2 separate regions of the Homo sapiens genome follow, and region 1 is linked to region 2. The links come from fine-mapping of genetic effects on gene expression. A gene starts in region 2. The other region holds a variant in brackets. All regions are shown on one strand. Distances are between the middles of the regions.

Evidence for each region. PIP is the estimated chance that this variant, and not a neighbour inherited with it, causes the effect. A credible set is the group of variants that fine-mapping cannot tell apart.
Region 1: its variant is the best candidate, but not a certain one, in a credible set for the expression of JMJD6 in whole blood (TOPMed, PIP 0.63).

Annotation. Positions count from the first base shown.
Region 1 is chr17:76,598,830-76,604,199 of GRCh38, reverse strand. No RefSeq gene overlaps it. Among named protein-coding and RNA genes, the nearest start is that of ST6GALNAC2, 16 kb to the right of the region's middle. RefSeq lists enhancers at 1,348-1,894, 1,895-2,442, 1,769-2,968 and a silencer at 2,819-3,113. The variant G/A (reference allele first, on the strand shown) is at 2,909.
Region 2 is chr17:76,724,146-76,729,473 of GRCh38, reverse strand. JMJD6 (jumonji domain containing 6, arginine demethylase and lysine hydroxylase) reads left to right here and starts at 2,868. Exons shown (of 6, transcript NM_015167.3): 1 at 2,868-3,127; 2 at 3,619-4,007. The coding sequence starts at 2,999. METTL23 (methyltransferase 23, arginine) reads right to left here and starts at 2,635. Exons shown (of 5, transcript NM_001080510.5): 1 at 2,296-2,635. RefSeq lists enhancers at 1-449, 1,107-1,735, 2,366-2,995 and silencers at 2,255-2,704, 2,815-2,944.

The DNA.
Region 1 (5,370 bases), 130 kb after region 2:
AAAAAAAAAAAAAAAAACATAGCTCCCACTCTGGCCAGGTATGGAGGCTCACACCTGTAATCCCAACATTTTGGGAGGCTGAGGTGGGAGGATTGCTTGAGACCAGCCTGGGCAATATGGCAAAACCCCTTCTCTATTATTTAAAAAAAAAAAAAATTAGGTGGGGCACAGTGGCTCACACATGTAATCCCAGCACTTTGGGATGCCAAGGCAGAAGGATCATTTGAGGTCAGGAGTTCGAGACCAGCCTGGCCAACATGGTGAAACCCCGTCTCTACTAAAAATACAAAAATTAGCTGGGCATGGTGGCGGGCACATGTAATCCAAGCTACTCAGGAGGCTGAGGCGGGAGAATTTCTTGAGCCTGGGAAGCAAAGGTTGTAGTGAGCAGAGACTCCGTCTCAAAAAAAAAAAAAAAGTAAAAAAAAAATTATTTAAAAAATCATAGTTCCCATCTCTGTCTCTCTTTTTTTTTTTTTTTTTTTTTGAGATGGAGTCTTGCTCTTGCCACCCAGGCTGGAGTGCAATAGTGTGATCTTGGCTCGCTGCAACCTCTGCCTCCTGTGTTCAAGCAATTCTCCTGCCTCAGCCTCCTGAGTAGCTGGGATCACAGGTGTGCACCACCACGCCTGGCTAATTTTTGTATTTTTAGTAGAGACGGAGTTCCACCATCTTAACCAGGCTGGTCTTGAACTCCTGACCTCAAGTGATCTGCCCACCTCAGCCTCCCAAAGTGCTGGGATTACAGGTGTGAGTCACCGCGCCCAGCCCCATCCTTTTTCTTGACTCCTTCCAGCTTAGACCAAAAACCCCAAGTGCAAGTTCAGGCTTCCAAACTCTACGGCCTCTGATATGGTTTGGATGTGTGTCCCCTCCAAACCTCATGTTGAAACATGATTCCTAATGTTAGATGTGGGGCCTGATGGGGGGTGATTCGATCATGGGGTAGATCCTTCATGAATGGCTCAGCAACATCCCCTTGGTGATAAGTGAGTTTTGCTCAGTTAGTTCATGCAAGGTCTGGTTGTTTAAGAGTCTGGGACCTCTCCCTTCTCTCTATTGCTCTCTCTCCAAGTGACATGCCTGCTCCCACTTCACCTTCCGCCATGAATAAGAGCTCCCTGAGGCCTCACCAGAAGCCAAGCAGATGTGGGCACCATGCTTCCTGTACAGCCTGCAGAACAATGAGCCAATTAAACCTCTTTTCTTTATAAATTATCCACTGTCAGGTATTTATAGCAATGTAAAAACAGACTAACAGCCTCCAACTATGTCCTCTTCCCAAGGAGTGCCCTTGCAATGATTCAAAGCCTGGGCCAGGAATTGAGTGTTTTACCGGTGGGTAAACCATGGCTTATCCATTAAACGTTGCAGCATAATTTATCTTTCAACAACCCCAGTCTCTCTTTCTCTTCCGCCTTTCAGAGTCACTGGTGCAAGGGCTCACACAGTTACTCACGGATTTAACATTATTTTTCCTCTTTTCTCACATGCCTGGGACTTAGACAACTAATTCAGCTGTTTTAGAGGATTTAAAAGGTTAAAGTACAGATCTAACACGTCTCGCAATTCTCTGCTTCTGGGTCAGCAGTTTTTTTGGGTTTTTTGTTTTTTTTTTGAGACAAAGTCTTGTTCTCTCGCCAAGGCTGGAATGTAATGGCACGATCTGGGCTCACTGCAACCTCTGCCTCCCAGGTACAAGTGATTCTCCTGCCTCAGCCTCCCGAGTAGCTGGGATTACAGGTGCCTGCCACCACACCTGGCTAATTTTTGTATTTTTAGTAGAGACGGGATTTCGCCATGTTGGCCAGGCTGGTCTCAAACTCTCGACCTCAGGCGGTCCGCCTGCCTTGGCCTCCCAAAATGCTGGGATTACAGGTGTGAGCCACCATGCCCAGCCTAGGATCAGCAGTTTTTGATCTTGTTCTTTTTTGCAGTGAGGAGTAGGCAAAGGGTCCAAAAGTTGCTCCTGGGTCGAGGGTGCATTGGAGAGATCAAGAGAGATTCAGAAGCAGGACAGATATTTGTGTTAGTAATGTTACAGGCACTTCAACCAGAGTGACTCCATCTTGAATAGGGACTGGGTAAAATGAGGTTGAGACCTGCTGTACTGCATTCCTAGGGGGTTAGACATTCTTAGTCATAGGGTGAGATAGGAGCTCGCAAGATACAGGTCACAAAGACCCTGCTGATAAAACAGGATGCAGTAAAGAAGCCAGCCAAAACCAAGATGGCAACAAATGTAACCTCTAATAGTCCTCACTGCCCATTATATGCTAATTATAATGCATTAGCATGCTAAAGTCACTCCCACCGGCACCATGAAAGCTTAGAAATGCCATGGCAACGTTCAGAAGTTACCTTATATGGTCTAAAAGGGGGAGGAAACCTCATTTCCAAAAAATCCCCACCCGTTTCCTGGAAAACATAATAATCCACTCCTCGTTTAGCATATGATCAAGAGATAACCATAAAAATAGCCACCCACTGGGAGGCGGAGGCGGGTGGATCACAAGGTCAGGAGATTGAGACCATCCAGGCTAACACCATGAAACCCCATCTCTACTAAAAATAAAAATAAATAAAAAAAATAGCCACCCAGCAGCTCTTGGGGCTGCTCTGCCTATGGAATAGCTATTCTTTTGTTTCTTTACTTCTCTAACAAACTTGCTTTCACTTTACTCTGGACTCACCCTAAATTCTTTATTGCATGAGATCCCAGAACCCTCTCTTGGGGTCTGGATTGGGACCCCTTTCTGGTGATAGTAATGGAAAGTCTAAAGTGTACTCAGAGGATAGTGTTGCATTCATGCTGGTCTCCATGGCAGTCCTCACATGTCCTGTTGACTGTATGTATTTATTTTTGAGAGAGGGTCTCACCCCATCACCCAGGCTGGAGTGCAGTGGC[G/A]CTATTGCAGCTCTCTGCAGCCTTGAACTCCCAGGCTCAAACGATCCTCCCACCTTAGCTTCCTGCATATGTGCCACCACACCCAGTTAACTTTTTTTCTCTCTTTTTGGTAGAGACAGGGTCTCACGATGTCGCCTAGGCTTGTCTCGAACTCTTGGGCTCAAGCGATCGGCCCACCTCGGCCTCCCAAAGTACTGGGATTACAGGCATAAGTCACTATTCCCTGCTTTGACTGGTATTTAAAGGAAAGCTTAAAGTCAAACATTGTGTTCACAGAAGGAGAAAAGTACACTGTACCAAGCTTGAGGATTTATACTTATCTACAAAATTGTTTGCAAATCGGTTTATACAAAAATGTGGCATTTTCTGGATTATCACATACTGGGTGGGCACAAAGAATAGTTCTGTGTTGGCACTGGGGAACAGGGAACTAGAGGCCTGACCCCGACCCCCTTCACATACACAAACACACACACACACTCACACACACACACTCACGCACACACCAGCTTCCTCAGAATCTCAAGGCAGGTTGGGTGTGGTGGCTTATGCCTGTATCCTAGTATTTTGGGAGGCCAAGGCAAACGGATTCCTTGAGCTCAGGAGTTCAAGACCAGTCTGGGCAACATGGCAAAACCCCATCTCTACTAAAAGTACAAAAATTAGCCAGGTGTGGTGGTGCGCATCTATAGTCCTAGCTACTCAGGAGGCTGAGGTGGAAGGATAGCTTGAGCCCAGGAGTTCAAGACTGCAGTGAGCCATGATCACGGCGCCACTGTACTCCAAGCTGGGTGACAGAGTAAGACCCTGTCCCCCCAGCCCCACCTAAAAAAAAACTCAAGGCAAATAGCACACCCAAGGTGATGCACGATATGGTGTCTACCCTTAGCTGAGCGCGAGGGCAGGAAGAAACAGGGTCTGCACGCCCTGCCATTTTGCACAGACACAGCACTCCTGAGCGTAGGAGGAGATGAAAGACAAACTCTTGACACAGCCAACCCCAGGCATGGGTGGAGAATTCCTCTCTTACAGATTCATCGGACTCGTCTAACCTTGCTCGTTGCTTCGGGGGTATTAGAAAACAGCAATGAGTATCATTGTCTCAGAGTCAGGGGCTAGTGAAATCAGGACCATGTCAGGCGATACAATTTGGGTACAGAAGAGAGGCTTGGCAAGAAAGGGGTTTGGGCCAAGGGAATAGGTAGGTTTCTCACTTAGGCAGACACCATTTAGACAACCAGAGCAGAATCATTCATCACAGTGCTTAGCTGGGCGTGGAGACACACATCACTTCTGGCTGGGGGCATTTGTGAATGTATAAATATACCCACGCGTCTCACAAGAAACTTGTCCTCTTGCCAAATTGTTCTCCAGCTTCTCATGTTAGAAACAAGAGAGAGTCCAATGTTAGGTTAATTCTCTTTCCCTTCTACGGAAATGCGTTTGCCCTTGGAAGCTTGCAACACTTCCTTTTTTTTTTTTTTTTTGAAATGAAATTTCCCTCTTGTCACCCAGGCTAGAGTACATTGGGCCAATCTCAGCTCACTGCAACCTCCACCTCCCGGGTTCAAGCGATTCTCCTGCCTCAGTCTCCCAAGTAGCTGGGATTATAGGTGTCTGCCACCATGCCCAGCTAATTTTTATATTTTTAGTAGAGAAGGGGTTTCGCCATGTTGGTCAGGCTGGTCTTGAACTCCTGACCTCAGGTGATCCGCCCACCTTGGCCTCCCAAAGTGCTGGGATTACAGGCATGAGCCACCGCACCCGGCCCAAGGATGCTTATTATTATTATTATTATTATTATTATTGAGATAGAATCTTGCTCTGTCACCCAGGCTGGAGTGCAATGGTGCGATCTCAGCTCACTGCAACCTCTGCCTCCCGGGTTCAAGTGATTCTCCTGCCTCACACTCCTGAGTAGCTAGGATTACGGTGCGCACCACCACACCCAACTAATTTTTGTATTTTTAGTACAGACGAGTTTTCACCATGTTGGCCAGGCTGGTCTCAAACTCCTGACCTCAGGTGATCGGCCTGCCTTGGCCTCCCAAAGTGCTGGGATTACAGGCGTGAGCCATTGCGCCCGGCAAGGACACTTATAATTGTTTGATTAAAGTTCCCACCTGGTCCTTTCCTCATTCTCCTTCAGTAGGAGACAGTTCTGGGTGTCTCCTTTCCTTTGGTCTCCCTTCCTCTGGTTGTGCAGTCCTCCCAAATTAGCCATTCTCTTTTAACCTGCTTACAGCTTTGTATTTGCCCAGCAACCAGGTCCAGCATCTAGAGTTTTTCAAGAAGTATGTGATGGCCAGGCACGGGAGCTCATGCCTGTAATCTCTTTGGGTGTCTGAGGCAGACAGATCGCTTGAGCCCAGGAGTTTGAGACCAGCCTGGGCAACATGGCGAAACCCTATCTGCACAAAAAAATACAAAAAACTAGCTGAGTGTAGTGGTGCATACCTTAG
Region 2 (5,328 bases):
GGATCATTCTCAGACTGGGGATATAGCTCTCCCTGAGCACATATCCTACTGTAGAGAGGCAACGAGCAAGCAAATAAGATATTTCTAGTCAGGGGCCGGGCACGGTGACTCAGGCCTGTCATCCCAGCACTTTGGGAGGATGAGGCGGGCGGATCACCTGAGGTCAGGAGTTTGAGACCAGCCTGGCTAACATGGTGAAACCCCTGTCTCTACTAAAAATACAAAAAATTAGCCGGGCATGGTGGCACGTGCCTGTAATCCCAGCTGAGGCGGGAAAATCGCTTGAACACGGGAGGCGGAGGTTGCAGTGAGCCGAGACTGCGCCACTGCACTCCAGCCTGGGCAACATAGTGAGACTACGTTTCAAAAAAAAATGGCCGGGCGTGGTGGGTCACGCCTGTAATCCCAGCACTTTGGGAGGCCGAGGTGGGTGGATCATCAGGTCAGGAGATCGAGACCATCCTGGCTAACGCGGTGAAACCCCGTCTCTACTCCACTAAAAATACAAAAAAATTAGCCGGACATGGTGGTGGGCACCTGTAGTCCCAGCTACTCCGGAGGCTGAGACAGGAAAATGGCGTGAACCCGGGAGGCAGAGCTTGCAGTGAGCAGAGATCTCGCGACTGCACTCCAGCCTGGGCGACAGAGCAAGACTCCAACTCCAAAAAAAAAAAAAAAAAAGGAAAGAGGCTTCTATTCTCACAGGCAATATCATCACCCCCTACATTTAGGAAGAAATGCAAGTGTATTTAAACGTGAAGCCAGCCGGGAGCGGTGGCTTACACCTGTAATCCCAGCACTTTGGTAGGCCGAGGCAGGTGCATCACCTGAGGTCAGGAGTTCAAGATCAGCTTGGCCAACATGGCAAAACCCCGTCTCTACTAAAAATACAAAAATTAGCCAGGCATGGTGGTGGGCGCCTATAATCCCAGCTACTTGGGAGGCTGAGGCAGGAGAATCACTTGAACCCACGAGGCGGAGGTTGCAGTGAGCTGAGATTGTGCCACTGCACTCGTCTGGGTGACAGAGCGAGACTCCATCTCCAAAAAAAAAAAAAAAAATCCGTGAAGCCAGATTGGGTGTGGTGGCCAATGCCTGTAGTCTCAGTTACTTGAAAGGCTGAGGTGGGAGGATCACTTGAGCCCAGAGGTTGAGGTTGCAGTTAGCAAAAAAAAGTGAAGCTGTTTGGAAACAATCAGAAATAGCCTCCACTCCAGTCTTTTTTTTTTTTTTTCTTCTTGACAATGTCTTGCTCTGTTGCTCATGCCTGAGTGCAGTGGCCTGATCATAGCTCACAGCAGCCTCGACCTCTCGGGCTCAAGCAATCCTCCCACCTCACCCTCCGGAGTAGCTGGGGCTACAGGCACAAGCCACGATGCCTAATTTTTCTACTTTTTGTAGAGACGTAGTATCACTATATTGCCCAGGCTGGTCTGGAACTCCTGGTCCCAAGCGATCCTCCCGCCTCCGCCTCCCATTTAACTTCTCTAAAGCTGTTTCTTTAGCATGGGACATGCCTCACAGGCTGGTGTTAAAACCAAATGAAATACTGCAAAGTGAAAGTGCTTTGAAAAACCGAAGACAGGCAGGGCATGGTGGCTCACTCCTGCAATCCCAGCACTTAGGCAGGCGGGAGGATCACTTGAATCCGGGAGTTGGAGGTTGCAGTGAGCTGTGATCGCGCCACTGCGCTCCAGCCTGGGCGCCAGAGCGAGACAGTGTCTCAAAAAAAAGAAAAGAAAAAGAATTATTATTGAGAGTTTTGTTGTAGCTGTGAGCTTAGAGGAAGAAGCGAGGTCCAACCCAAGAAACACTTTGGGCACCAAATAAAACTGGAAACCCTGATCCCAAAACTCACACAAAAGTGAGAGATAAGGATGAATCAAGAAACCCTTGGACAAGATCAAAAGAAGCATTAGAGGTCAGTCAAGAATGTCACTTTCCTGGCAGGAAAGATTCGATGTGGAGAAAGCCGGCCCGGCGCAGTGGCTCATGCCTGTAATCCTAGCACTTTGGGAGGCCGAGGCAGGAGGATCACTTAAGCTTACAGTTCGAGACCAGCCTGACCAACATAGTGACCAGGGTCACTTCTTGGCAGGGTCTCCAAAATTCTTACTGAGAGACATTTAATGCACCGAAGGGCTTCATATCCGACGTTTTTGCTCCGGGGGTCAACCTAAAGCAGGAAGCTGCGCAGCTGAGCGTCCGCACCCCCGGTCCCTCAGGAACCCAGCCAAGTCAGCCGACATCCGCTCCTGACCTCAGGCGCCTCCTGGCGGGTGCTGCTGCACGCACCTGCGGGACGTGGACCTCCAGGACAGCCCCGTCGGCCCCCGGACCCGGCTCCTCCGAGAATCGAAAGCGCTGGGCCCGGACCCCCTGTCCTCGGAAATCGTGCTCGCCCAGTAGGGCGTCGTTGGGCCCCGGGCGGGCGGGGGACCGCGGAAGGCTCCGGGCTGCCAGACTGCGCGAGCGGGAAGCCGCGGGCCACGTGGCCGTAGCACCTGACGGCAAGAAGGGGAAAGCCCAGATCTGGTGATAACCCTGCCGCGCTGCGAGCGAAGAAAGCCCGGAGCAAGGCGAAAGAGACTCACACGCGCAGAACTGGCAACGGGCGGCTGGCGCGACCGGAAGTGATGGGCACAGCGGCAGCGCGGGAGGGGAGGGGCGGGGCGGGGCGGGGCGGTGACGCAGCCGACGTGACCTTCCCAACATGGCGGAGGCCCGCCGTATGTGAAGGAGTACCCCAGGGGAGCCAAAGCCAATGGAAAACCGCGAGAGGCGTCGGGGCGGGGAAGACGGCGGCCGCTTGCCCAACCCGAGGCTCGGGAGGTGGCTGGGGAGTGAATTTTCTGGAAGGCGACTTTAAAGGCGCCGGGACTGAGCGAAGGGCGTTTGGGTACTGCCGTCGCCGCCGCCCAGGCCGGGGAGGGGTGCGTTAGTGTCAGGAAGCGGGCTGCGCCGAGGTCGTAGCGGAACCAGCTGGCGACCCCGCAGAATGAACCACAAGAGCAAGAAGCGCATCCGCGAGGCCAAGCGGAGTGCGCGGCCGGAGCTCAAGGACTCGCTGGATTGGACCCGGCACAACTACTACGAGAGCTTCTCGCTGAGCCCGGCGGCCGTGGCGGTGAGCGGGTCGGGCGGGGGTGGCCAGGCCGGGCATCGGCACCTCCAGCCGCTACGCACCTTTCTCTGGGCCCGAGGCTGCCCTCGCCCCGAGCGCCCGGGACCTCGTAGAGGCTCACCCGCACCCCGCGGAGTTTGGGGTCCCCGAGGCGCGGATTCCGGGGCGGGTCTGCTTCCTCCCGTGCTGTGGCCGCCCGTCTGCTCTGGCGGACGACGGGAGTCCCACGCCTGTGGCGCTCTCAACTAGAAGGCCCGTCGTCCCTGACTCCTTTGGGCGGCGGGTCCCCTAGGGGACCTGGCTGTCAAGGCTCATGGGGGGTGGCTCTAGGAACGACGTGGCCTCACGCACGCGCCCTGCCCCCACCCCGGAGGAGCCAGACGAGAGTCAACTTCCTTCGGTTTGTCATTACCAGTTGGCCTTGGGGACACCCTTATCTGCCACTGGACTTTTTTTTTTTTTTTAACTGGACAGGTCTTTTTTAATTCCCTCAGGATAACGTGGAAAGGGCAGATGCTTTACAGCTGTCTGTGGAAGAATTTGTGGAGCGGTATGAAAGACCTTACAAGCCCGTGGTTTTGTTGAATGCGCAAGAGGGCTGGTCTGCGCAGGAGAAATGGACTCTGGAGCGCCTAAAAAGGAAATATCGGAACCAGAAGTTCAAGTGTGGTGAGGATAACGATGGCTACTCAGTGAAGATGAAGATGAAATACTACATCGAGTACATGGAGAGCACTCGAGATGATAGTCCCCTTTACATCTTTGACAGCAGCTATGGTGAACACCCTAAAAGAAGGAAACTTTTGGAAGACTACAAGGTGCCAAAGTTTTTCACTGATGACCTTTTCCAGTATGCTGGGGAGAAGCGCAGGCCCCCTTACAGGTAAAGTATTCTGCAGCTAAGTGGTTAAAATCCTTTTCTTTTTTTTTTTTTTTTTTTTTTGAGACAGAGCGTCACTCTTGTAGCCCAGGCTGCAGTGCCGTGGTGCGATCTCGGCTCACAGCAACCTCCATCTCCCGAGTTCAAGCGCTTCTCCTGCCTCAGCCTCCTGTAACTGGGATTACAGGCATGCGCCACCACACCCAGCTAATTTTGTATTTTTAGTAGAGACGGGGTTTCACCATGTTGGTCAGGCTGGTCTCGAACTCCCGACTTCAGGTGATCTGCCCGCCTCGGCCTCCCAAAGTGCTGCGATTGCAGGTGTGAGCCACCGCGCCCGGCCTGTGGTTAAAATCTTATCTACAACAGCATTTGCTCGCTGAGTTCAGTTGCTAATCTTTTTTGGAAACAGTGAGTACTCCCTCGGCTGTACATTGAACTCATTTAGGGGGCTCCTGAGGCCTGCCTGGGCCCTACTGGGGAGACTGATTTAATTCGGGTGATGCCTGCGCATCAGAATTTCTGAAAGCTCTTCAGGTGACTTGAATGTGCAGCTATGGTTGAAGCACTGATCTCTAAGGGAGGTTTTAATAAAGTCCAGCAATAAACCACATTAGTGATTTTTCTTTTTTTTTCTTTTTTTTTTCTTCATTGAGATGGAGTCTCCCTCTGTCGTCCAAGCTGGAGTGCAGTGGCGCAATCTCAGCTCACTGCAGCCTCCGCCTCCCGGGTTCAAGCAATCCTCCTGTCTCAGCCTCCTGAGTAGCTGGGATTACAGGTGCCCACCACCACACCCGGCTAATTTTTGTATTTTCAGTAGAGATGGGGTTTCACCGTATTGGTCAGGCTGGTCTTGAACTCCTGACCTCAGGTGATGCACCCACCTCTGCCTCCCAAAGTGCTGGGATTACAGGCGTGAGCTACCGCCCCAGCTGATTTTTCTTATTTTGTTAGGAATCAGTCCATGAACAATGCACCCAGTGTTTCTGTGTACCAGAATTTATATAATCTCTGAAATAAAGATGACATATCACATAAAATTAAAACCTGGCCAGGTGCGGTGGCTCAAGCCTGTTATTCCAGCACTTTGGGAGGCCGAGGCAGGTGATCACTTGAGGCCAGGAGTTCGAGACCAGCCTAGGCAACATGGTGAAACCCTGTCTCTACTAAAAATACAAAAATTAGCCAGGCGTGGTGGTGTGCGTCGGTAATCCCAGCTACTCAGGAGGCTAAGGCAGGAGAATCACATGAACCTGGGGAAGCAGAGGTTACTGTCAGCCAAGATCACGCCACTGCATTCCAGCCTGGGTGATAGAGCAAGACT